4 separate regions of the Homo sapiens genome follow, and all the other regions are linked to region 3. Evidence: fine-mapped expression QTL. A gene starts in region 3. Each other region holds a variant in brackets. All regions are shown on one strand. Distances are between the middles of the regions.

Region 1 (2,684 bases), 54 kb before region 3:
CCAGCCACAGTCGAACCTCTGATCTGAATCCTGAGTCTCAAATAATCTCTTGGGCTCTGATGAAAATTGTGATTTCCTGGAAGGACAGGAGCAAATGGCAAGTGGGTGGCTCAACCCTCTAGTCCAGTAATGAAGCAGAAATGACAGTGTCGCTGAGTTAAATCAGACCCAAGCTTGATCCTCAGAGCAGAACTTGAATGATGTAAGAAGGGTTCATTTCCTGAAGGAAAGAGAATAACCCCCGCCACCACCTCCCACACCCCCCATTTCAGGCAGATCTGTCAGTCTCATGGTTTCACCCCAACGACAGCACTCTTCATATTCTAGGAACTGGAGACTCACACTATTAGGGCACTTTGAAATCCTAATTCACTCGCTTGCTTTCGTTATGACCTCTTCACCCGTCCTCCAAAATATACACTTAAAAAGCCAGTCAATGAACATTAACCATTTTTTTTTGTAGAAATTTACTTATCACTTGAGATACCTAGAGACATTTTGGGCCATCACAAAGGAAGGTAAGGAGTATCCCCCTAGGAACCAATTTGCGTAACTAGTGAATAAAGGATCTATTTTCAACAAAATAATACCTTAAAGATGCAATTCAGAAACAGGGGTAACAGGCAAAGCTGGAAAAGATTGTGCCTGGGCTTCTGTTTCCTGTGACAGATGAAGGGAAAAAGCAATAGATGTTAATATCTTCGTTTAGCGAGGGGTAGAATGACATTGACTCCTCCCACTGTGAACGGGGTCTAGGCAGCTGCAGGGAGAAATGATCGAAGCAGGCAGGAGCAGCCTCTTGAAAATGGGGAGTTGCCTTGAGAGCCTGTCGACCAAAATGACTCCTCGGAGGGGACAGAAACAAAGGAATCCAGTGGAGGGACTTCCGTTGATGACTGTTCAAGTTGTCTCAATTGCTGTTCCATTTCCTGCAGGTTCCAAGGCGATGGTAATTGCTTGGTCCACAGTTCCCATCCAAGGTGGGCAGAAAGCAGAGTTTGGGAAGCTGTGAGTTCTTGTCAAAGCTGAAGGGCATGAGCTATGTTGGTGAGGTTATTAATGTCCTTGAAAAGGAGCCCAAGAGGCTGAATGAGGTTGTCTGAGGCTCAGAAAGTGGAGAGTGGGGCTGTGTCCACGGGGAGCAGATGCCCAACACTGTCAGGATGTCTCTTGTCCTCAGGGAACACCAAGCAGTCTCCCAGTCCCAGAAAGTGCTCAGGGGCTGCTCGCCATCAGTGTGGGAGAAGATGGAGGTTATGGAGTGCGGTGGGTAGAAAAGGGACTGTCTTCTCAGGCACTGGCTACCTTCCCTTCTGGAGGCAGCTGACAGGGGGACAAGCCTGAGATCTGACTGGGGGAGCTCTCAAGTCAGAAGAAAAAGAGGCTACGCAGTGACCACGGTAGGCCCAGACGGCTCAGGCGAGGGCATCTCCCCAACACGAAC[A/T]GAGCTCCGCGAATAAATAACATGAATTAAATAAAGGAGGCGAAGAAGAGCAGGCAGAGGCACCATCTGCCAGATTCTCACCCCTGCACACACGCACACGCACATGCACGCACACGCACACGCACCAAGCGGCAGATGAGATGAGCCAGGGTTGGCTGCCCCATCCCAGGAGTCTATTGGATGGGCAGCCTGACGTGATGGTTGTCACTCATGGTCCGCCACTGTTGCAGGGCGCAGAGAAGCAGAGGCCAGGGAGGCATGTGTGGTGGAAGGTGGAGGCCGCTGAGGACTCTGGCACCTGCAGGGGAGATGACGCAGGCGAAAGGGGAGGTTAGGGAAATACAGGAAACAGGAAAGTGGGTCCTCTCCTTTGCCCCATCCTGTTGCTGCAGGAATCCTTCTGACATCCCCAGTCACCCCTTGCCCTTCCTGCCCTTCGGGTACCAGCAAAACCCTCTTTAGCATCACCCAGCGCCTGCAGTTCCCCTGCCTCCTGGGTCCAGTGCTGCCTGGGACCATGGAGGTACTGACCAGGATCTGGACTTTCGGACTTTAGACGTGGAAGGTCTTTCCAGAAAGCTGTCCAATCGCATGAGCCTCTCCATGTGTAGCGCACGAGGGTCTTGTTCTTGGTCGTGAGAGAATTCCATCTCAAAGACAGCTGGAGGGGACACATCCAACTCCAGAAACATTATGTTTTCAGCCTGTGGTGGGAATATCATGCCAGGCTTGAACAGTGCCCAGTCACTGTGCCTTCTAGGGACTCAGCCAGTCTTGGGTGTAGCAGGGCTGATGAGGTGGTTAGGGGAAGCAGAGGCTGTGAGCATCCCCTCCCATAGGCTCTTTTTTTTTTTTCTTCTGAGATGGAGTCTCACTCTGTTGCCCAGGCTGGAGTGCAGTGGTGCAATCTCGGCTCACTGCAACCTCCACCTCCCAGGTTCAAGCAATTCTCCTGCCTCAGCCTCCCAAGTAGCTGGGACTATAGGCACCCATCACCACGCCTGGCTAATTTTTGTATTTTTAGTAGAGACAGGGGTTCACCATGTTAACCAGGCTGGTCTCGAACTCCTGACCTCAGGTGATCCACCTGCCTCGGCCTCCCACAGTGCTGGGATTACAGGTGTGAGACACCTCGCCCGGCCTCCCTCCCGTAGGCTCTTTCTCCCCTCTCCGCTTCTTACCCTGTACCTGGGGTGGGACCCCATTGCCATGGCAACCCGAGCATACTGGCTGATAGGCC
Region 2 (2,684 bases), 160 kb after region 3:
AAAGGGAAGCAATGGGGCATCTGATTGGTCTGGGAGCTCCAGATAGCCAGCAGGTACTTGAAGGCTGCAAGCCAGCTTGAGAGCAGTGGCTGGAACTGGAAGGGGTGTGCACACTACCAATAGCAAGTGAGCAAGAGAGACCCACAATAAACTGAAGGTTATTACAGTACTACAGTAGGCTCTAAGAAAGTCCCTTCTCCCACTTTAAGAAACAGGGCTTTTTTTTTTTTTCTTTTTTACTTTTAAAGGAAACAATTCATTTGCTAGAAAAACCTAAAAAAAAAAAAGATTATATACAAAATGGTTGTCTGAATGTGGATTTTATACTGCAGCAAAAGCAACCCAGCTCTGGAACTCTATTCGGCTTCCTCAGTTATCAGGTACATCATGCTGCTGATGAAGGTGAAGGCGAAGGCCACCCACGCCAGGATGTAGGAGTAGCCATAGCTGCCTTCTTTGGTCAGGTAATAGAAATCCGTTGTTTCATCGCGCCTGTCTGTATAAATGGAGGCTGCAATCATGAGGCACAGATATGACATTGTAGCATGGTGTACTTTTTTTTTTTTTTTTTTTTTTTTTTTTTTTTTGAGACGAGTTTCGCTCTTGTTGCCCAGGCTGGAGTGCAGTGGCGCGATCTCGGCTCACTGCAACCTCCGCCTCTCGGGTTCAAGCGATTCTCCTGCCTCAGCCTCCCGAGTAGCTGGGACTACAGGTGTGTGCCACCACACCCGACTAATTTTGTATTTTTAGTAGAGATGGGGTTTCTCCATGTTGGTGAGGCTGGTCTCAAACTCCCGACCTCAGGTGAACCCCCCGCCTCAGCCTACCAAAGTGCTAGGATTACAAGGCGTGAGCTACCATGCCCGGCCGCGGAGTGGGGTACTCTTTTTTTTTTTTCTTTTTTTTGAGACGGAGTCTCGCTCTGTCGCCAGGCTGGAGTGCTGTGGCGCAATCTTGGCTCAATGCAACCTCCAAATCCCTGGTTCAAGCGATTCTCCTGCCTCAAGCCTCCTGAGTAGCTGGGATTACAGGCACGCACCACCACGCCCGGCTAATTTTTGTATTTTTAGTAGAGACGGAGTTTCATTATGTTGGCTAGGCTGGTCTCTATCTCCTGACCTCATAATCCGCATGCCTCGGCCTCCCAAAGTGCTGGGATTACAGGGGTGAGCCACCGCGCCCGGCCCATGGAGTACTCTTTAAAGCTGTCATTGATTACTGTACACTTCGTGTTTTTGGTACATATTCTCCAGACATCTGCAAAAAACTCATTTCCTACCCACCAGGCATTGTCGATGGTGGCGATGAACAGCAAGGCCGCAGAGGTGATGTGGAAGGCGACGGTGAAAGTAAGAAGCACCAACATTTTCATAGGGCAGGGCGAGGCGAGGGGTCACGTTTAAAGCCCAGAGCGGGATGTGCCGGCGCTGGCCGCTACGCAGGCTGCTGGACCGATGGACCGGCTGGGGTGCGAGGCAAGGCCGCCGGGCTGTTTTGAAGCTCTGGGCTGAGACTGTGCACCCTCCCTCCTCTGAAACCAGGGCTTCTTGAAATGGCAGATTCCAAGTTTGTGTCAGGAAAGGGGTAAAATGAGCCTGAAATAGCTGATTACATCAGATCTCAAACTCAAAATCTAGGGATGTTATCAAGATGGCTTGGGAGTTAACTTGAAGATGCTCACTCTGGCTAAAGATGGGACA[G/A]TCTGAACCTGTTGAATATGTGTAAATCCATGAGTTTATGATGATACCAAACACACATGCACACACCCCTAATTGGTCACTATTGGAGAATGCCAGGGAAATAGCTCTTCCCTCCCCCTACAACTCCTCTGGTGGTAAGTAAAAGAATCAATAATTAATCTTACCTTCCTTATATGAACTATACCACTGCGTAACTGAATAGTCAACAAGATGAAGTTTCTCTGTACAGAAGTATTCCAACAACAACCAAAAAGAAGAAGTAATAGAGTCTTATCTCACAACCTCTGATGAATTCATGGATCTAGGCAACGGTCGATGGCTACTAACATCACAAAAAGATCCAACAAAACAGACATTTATGTTCCTTCTGACCAAGAGCACCATGCTTATGAGGAGGCCATGCCTGATCAAAAGATCAGATCTGTAGTTTAGAGCCAACTGCTAATTTATAGGAAAAACGAGCACAGAACATGTTATACTAAATCAATCAACAAAATCCAGACCGTAAACTTTACAGGACAATTGCTTCAGCCTCTTCAAAATTCAATTTCAATAGGTAGAGAGAGAAAAGCAGGCAAAGCTGAACTATAGTGCGTTTAGGAAAGTACAGCATAATATACTAATGTAAATTAAGAAAATCATTATCCTAGAAGTCAGGATAGGGATATTATTATTATTACTATTTTGAGACAGAGTCTCGCCCTGTCACCCAGGCTGGAGTGCAATGGCATGATCTCGGCTCACTGCAACTTCTGCCTCCCAGTTTCAAGTGATTCTCATGCCTCAGCCTCCCCAGTAGCTGGGATTACAGGCACCCACCACCACGCCTGGCTAATTTTTATATTTTTAGCAGCGATGACATTTCACCATGTTGCCCGGACTGGTCTCGAACTCCTGACCTCAGGTAATCGGCCTCCCACTCAGCCTCCCAAAGTGCTGGGATTACAGGCGGGAGCCACTGTGCCCGGCCAGGATAGGGATATT
Region 3 (2,684 bases):
TGACATTCTTGGTGACGAAGGAGGAGAGGTCCTTGATGTAGACGCCAGTCTCGGGGTTCTCTTTCAGCTCTAGCCTCTTGCCCGGCTCCTTGGAGAGCAGGTCTCGAATCTCTTCCTGGTAGATCTCCAAATAGGAGGCCCGGACCAGGTACTGTTGGTTCTGGGAGCGGGAGATGTGGGTGAAGATGTGCTCAAAGGCATTCGGGATGACCCCGCGCAGCTCGGGCTCCACCCAGGTCCCCTGCATGGTATAGGTCTTGCCAGTGCCCGTCTGGCCATAGGCAAACACCGTGCCATTGAAACCCTGGAGCACGGAGTCTATCAGGGGCCTCACGGTTTCGTCATACAGGTCGGCCTGCTTGGAGCTGGCATCATACACGGCGTCAAAGGTGAAGGTCTTGGGCAGCTCCCCCGGGGCGGCGCGGGGGTTCCGCAGGGTCACCTGGCCCAGTTTCACGTCCATGGTCAGGATCTGCTCGTGACCAGCAGCCTCCTCCTTCCTGCTGAGGGGGCGGCACCGGGCCACCACCTTGAGGGCCTCGCTGGCCTTGGTCTTACTGGCCATCTTGCTGCTCTGACCTTCCTGCCCCCGAGCCCCTCCGCAGCCTGGGCGGTCCTGCTATCCTGCTCGCTAGGTCGGGATCAGCGGGGCCGGCCCAGCCCCCAGGCGCAGCTCTTCAATCCGCATGCAGCCTCCTAGGGTGGGGACGCTGGGAGGTGGCCCCAACGCTGCTGCAGTCCGGGCCTCCACCGCTCTCCGGTCCTCTCTGCACCGGCTGGGAGGTGAATTAGGCAGAATCCCCCAGTCGCCGCGGGAGCAGCGCCTGCCGAGCAGCCGTGCCCGGAGCCCGCCCCATGCAGGAGCAGAGGGAGCGCTGCCGTAAACAGCTTCGGCAACAATGAGATAAAGGAAGAGGAAAATGGGATGGGGGTGGGCGGCGAGCTGTCTTCTCCTCCTTCCTCTAGGGATCCATAGCGTGGGCTGCCGGTCGTGGGCGGCCGGGGGTCCCGGGCCTCCCGAGGGCAGAGGCTCACCTGGAGTCCTCCCCCCAAGCTGGGGGATCATTCATTGCAGCCAGCGCGGCTGCTGCTGCCTCTGCCTCCGCCTTCCCCGCCGCCGCCACTGGAGAATGAGAGAGAAAAACAGAAGGGGATGGGGCGGAGCAGCGGCAGCGAGAGTGATGTTGCCGCCGCGCTGCGGCCCCAGCTAAGCCTCCCGACTGGGGTGGGGCAGGGGGCGGGGCCGCGGGGCGGGAGGCGCGAGCCCGGAGCGGCCCGGGTGCGGGGGACAGGGGCGCATCGCCGTCTCTGCACCCCCGCCGACCGCTCCGGGATGACAGGCTCCGGTGCCGACCCAGGTCCTGCGCCCACCAGTCGGGTGCAGCGCAGCCACCGCCCGCCGTCACCCCACCGAGCCCGAGCATGCCGGGAATTGTAGTCCTGCCTTTGTTAACCGGGTTCTGGCAGGTTGCTAATGCCTTTCCCGGTCCCCCAGTCCGGGAGGCGCCTCCCTCATCCGCATGCCACCCCTTGAGTGACTGCTGAGCTTGCACCACCTATGCCTGGTCCCTCCGAGCCACCATCCTCGGACACCCCCCTGCTCCTGCCTTTCTGCCTGCAAATGGGTGCGCGTCACCCCTCCCCGTCAGGGTGTCGCCAGGCCTCCGGGAACCGAACTCCTAAATGTTCCTTGACTCTGTCCTTTCCTCCCCCTGTCCCGGTCTACTTCTGGCCTTCCTCTTCTCTCTGCTGGAGCCCACCTTCCAGCTGATTCTCTCGCACCTTATGTCCGCACAAGCACCCGGGAGCCCCCTCGCTCCTCCTCCACCGCCTTCCTTGTGTGAAAGCCTCTCCATCTTCCGCCTTCGCAGCCTCACCGCCACTACTCCTCTATAGAAAAATCTGTGTTCCAGACAGCCATTTCTTCAGTTATCCAGCGCCTGCTGAGCCCCAGGCCCCATTCTAGGATCTGGGTCCTTCCTGTCCTCAAGCAGTGCACATTCCCGGAACCGTGTTTTGTTTCTTTAACTGGCTTTGCTGTGCAGCATCTTTGTGCTTTTGCCCAGAGGCCTGGTCACCCTTCGGCACTTAGTGCCCTGCCACTTGGGCAGTTCAAGCACCTCCTCCTCCACGAAGCCTTCCCTTAGCAATTTTTTTTTTTCTATAGTGAAAGAGGCACAGAATTTACCTAAGACAAAACCTGGATTGAAGTTCCAGTTCTGATGGCCATCCAATGGAGTGGCTTTGAGCAGTCACTCCCCTTGCTCCAGCCTTAGTTTCCTCATTTATTTTTTTAAAAATTCGAGGCGGGAAAGAAATAATTAACAACTACTTCATGGAATGGTTGGGAGGCTCAAATGAAATAATGAATCATGAAGTACTGTACCATGAGAAGTCCTGCCCTGGCTTGGATTGCCTGACAGCTCCTGCTTCCTTGAGTATCCTGGATAGACCATGTCTGTGCTTGGTGTTCCTCTATGGGAGTCTTAATCTTTTTTTTTTTTCCTGTAGGATACAAATAAAGTGTAATTCCACAAGGCCAAGGACCAAGCCAGAGTCCTATCCATGGTCCACTCTGCAGAGGGCAGTTGAGTCTGTGGACTGAGCCCAAGCTGTCTGTCTTTACTCTCCATATGAGAACCAGATTGAGAGGTGCTGTTATCTGAAACCTGGAGACCCTTCTT
Region 4 (2,684 bases), 130 kb after region 3:
GGCCAGGCGCAGTGGCTCATGCCTGTAATCCCAGCACTTTGGGAGGCTGAGGCAGGCGGATCACCTGAGGTCAGGAGTTTGAAACCAGTCTGGTCGACATGGTGAAACCCTGTCTCTATGAAAAACACAAAAAATTAGCCGGGCATGATGGTGGGCACCTGTAGTCTCAGCTACTCAGGAGGCCAAGGCAGGAGAATCACTTGAACCCAGGAGGCGGAGGAGGTTGCAGTGAGCCAAGATTGCACCACTGCACTCCATCCTGGGCAGCAGAGTGCAACTCCGTCTCAAAAAGAAAGAAAGAGGAAATCTTGTTTCTCTGGTGTATTAAAGGATTATATAACATGATCAAGAGGAACTTACCCAGGAATGCAAGGGTCAGAACCTGTCAATGTAATACACCATATTAATAGACGACAAAACCATACAGTTATCTCAGTTCACACAGAAAAAACATTTGACAAAATCCAACATTCTTTTATGATTAAAACAGTCAGCCAAACGCAGTGGCTCACACCCGTAAATCCCAGCACTTTGGGAGGCCGAGGCAAGTGGATCACCTGAGGTCAGGAGTTCGAGACCAGCCTGGCCAACATGGTGAAACCTCGTCTCTACTAAAAATACAAAAATCAGCCAGGTGTGATGGCAAACACCTGTAACCCCAGCTACTCGGGAGGCTGAGGCAGGAGAATCGCTTGAGCCCAGGAGGTGGAGGTTGCAGTAAGCCAAGATCGTGCCATTGTGCTCCAGCCTGGGCGACAGAGCAAGACTCTGTCTCAAAAAAAAGTCAACAAACTAGGAATAGCAAAGAACTTCCTTAATCCTGTAAGTGACATCTATAAAAATACCACAGCTATTATTGTACCTGTCCCCTAAGATCAAGAGCATGGCAAGAATATCTACTCTGGCCACTTCTGTTCAACATTATGCTGAGTTCCAGCCAGAGCTAAAAAAAAAAAAAAAAAGAAAGAAAGAAAAAAAGCCATCCAGAGTGAAACAACTATTTATAAATGGTAGAATATTTTATATAGAAAATCCTTAAGAACCCACAAACATATACCCAGAAAACTCTTAGAACTAATAAACAAGTTCAGCAAGGTTACAAGAAATGAGATCAACATATAAAAATCAGCTTTATTTCTGTACACTAGCAATAACCTAAAAATTACATTGAGAATAAATTTCCATTTGTAATAATATCAAAAGGCAAAAAATACTTAGGAGTAAATTTAACCAAAAGAGTGTAAGACTTGAACACAGAAAACCACAAAATATTGTTGAAAGAAATTAAAGATCTAAATAATTAGATAGCCATTATTTGTGAATTGGAAGACAATATTAAGATGGCATTACTACCCAAAGTGATCTACAGATTTAGTGCAATCCCTATCAAAATCCCAATTGCTTTTTTAAAAATTCCCCCCCGTAGAAATTGACAAATTGACCCTAAAACTAATATAGAAAGGCAAGGGACCCAGAGTAGCCAAAA[T/A]AATCTTGAAAAGGAAGTACACAGTTGTAAGATTTATACTTTCTGGTTTTAAAACTTAACCGCAAAGCCACAATAATCAAAACACTGTGATACTGACATAAGGATAGTCATAAAGATTGATTGAATAGTATTGAGAGTCTAAAAATAAACTCTTACATATATGGTCAGTTGACTTTTAACAAGATGGCTAGACAATTCAATGGGCAAAAGAATAGTCTTTCCAACAAATGGTGCTGGGAAAACTGGCTATCCTTGTGTGGAAGAATGAAAGTTAGACACCTACTTCATACCATACAGAAAAGTTAACTCAAAATGGACCACAAAGGTTGGGTATGGTGACCCACACCTGTAATCCCAACATTTTGGGAGGCCAAGGTGGGTGGGTCGCTGGAGCCCAGGAGTTTGAGACCAGCCTGGGCAACATGGTGAAACCCCATCTCTACAAAAATATACAAAAAAAAAAAAAAAAAATTAGTCGGGTATGGTGGTATGCACTTGTAGTTCCAGCTATCTGGGAGGCTGAGGTGGGATCACTTGAGCCCAGGAGGTCGAGGCTGCAGTGAACCATGATTGCATTACTACACTCCAGCCTGGGCAACAGAGTGAGACTCTGTCTCAAAAAAAGAAAAAAAACCAAAAAGGATCATGGACCTACATGTAAGATCTAAAGCCATGAAGTGGCAAAAGAAAAGAAATGGATAAATTGGGCTACATCAAATTTAAAACCTTTGTGCTTTGAAGGTTCTACCATTTAGAAAGTAAAAAGCCAACCCACAGAATGGAAGAAAAGAGGACAGACTCTAACAAGCGTTCACAAAGATGGAGAGAAATTGTAACCCTCATATATTGCTGGTAGAATTGTAGAAAGATGCAGCTGGTTTGGAAGATATTTTGGCAGTTCTCAAAATGGTTAAACATACAGTTACCTTATGACCAGCAGTTCTACTCTTAGGTATTTACCCAAGAGAATTAACAATATATATCCACAAAAGGTGTACACAAGTATTTATAGCAGCATTGTTCACAATAGCCAAAAAAAAAAACCAGAAACAACCCAAACATCCATCAACTGATGAATGGATAAATAAAATGTGTATATTCATATAAGGGAACATCACTCAGCCATTAAAAGGCATGAAGGACTGATACTTGGTACAGTGTGGGTGAACCTTGAAAACCTTATGAAAGAAGCCAGACA

The links.
Region 1: its variant is fine-mapped to the expression of KIF3C in whole blood (TOPMed, PIP above 0.99).
Region 2: its variant is fine-mapped to the expression of KIF3C in whole blood (TOPMed, PIP 0.98).
Region 4: its variant is fine-mapped to the expression of KIF3C in whole blood (TOPMed, PIP 0.96).

What each region holds. Positions count from the first base shown.
Region 1 is chr2:25,927,330-25,930,013 of GRCh38, forward strand. It overlaps KIF3C (kinesin family member 3C), which reads right to left. Exons shown (of 8, transcript NM_002254.8): 6 at 2,626-2,684; 7 at 1,976-2,148; 8 at 1-1,742. The coding sequence ends at 1,649. Among named protein-coding and RNA genes, the nearest start is that of ASXL2, 50 kb to the left of the region's middle. The variant A/T (reference allele first, on the strand shown) is at 1,445.
Region 2 is chr2:26,139,899-26,142,582 of GRCh38, forward strand. It overlaps the pseudogene EMP2P1. Among named protein-coding and RNA genes, the nearest start is that of GAREM2, 32 kb to the right of the region's middle. The variant G/A (reference allele first, on the strand shown) is at 1,701.
Region 3 is chr2:25,981,353-25,984,036 of GRCh38, forward strand. It overlaps KIF3C (kinesin family member 3C), which reads right to left and starts at 1,145. Exons shown (of 8, transcript NM_002254.8): 1 at 1-1,145. The coding sequence starts at 565. RefSeq lists enhancers at 1-424, 425-934 and silencers at 924-1,083, 1,224-1,393.
Region 4 is chr2:26,112,799-26,115,482 of GRCh38, forward strand. The region is part of intron 3 of RAB10 (RAB10, member RAS oncogene family); the gene reads left to right. Among named protein-coding and RNA genes, the nearest start is that of GAREM2, 59 kb to the right of the region's middle. The variant T/A (reference allele first, on the strand shown) is at 1,487.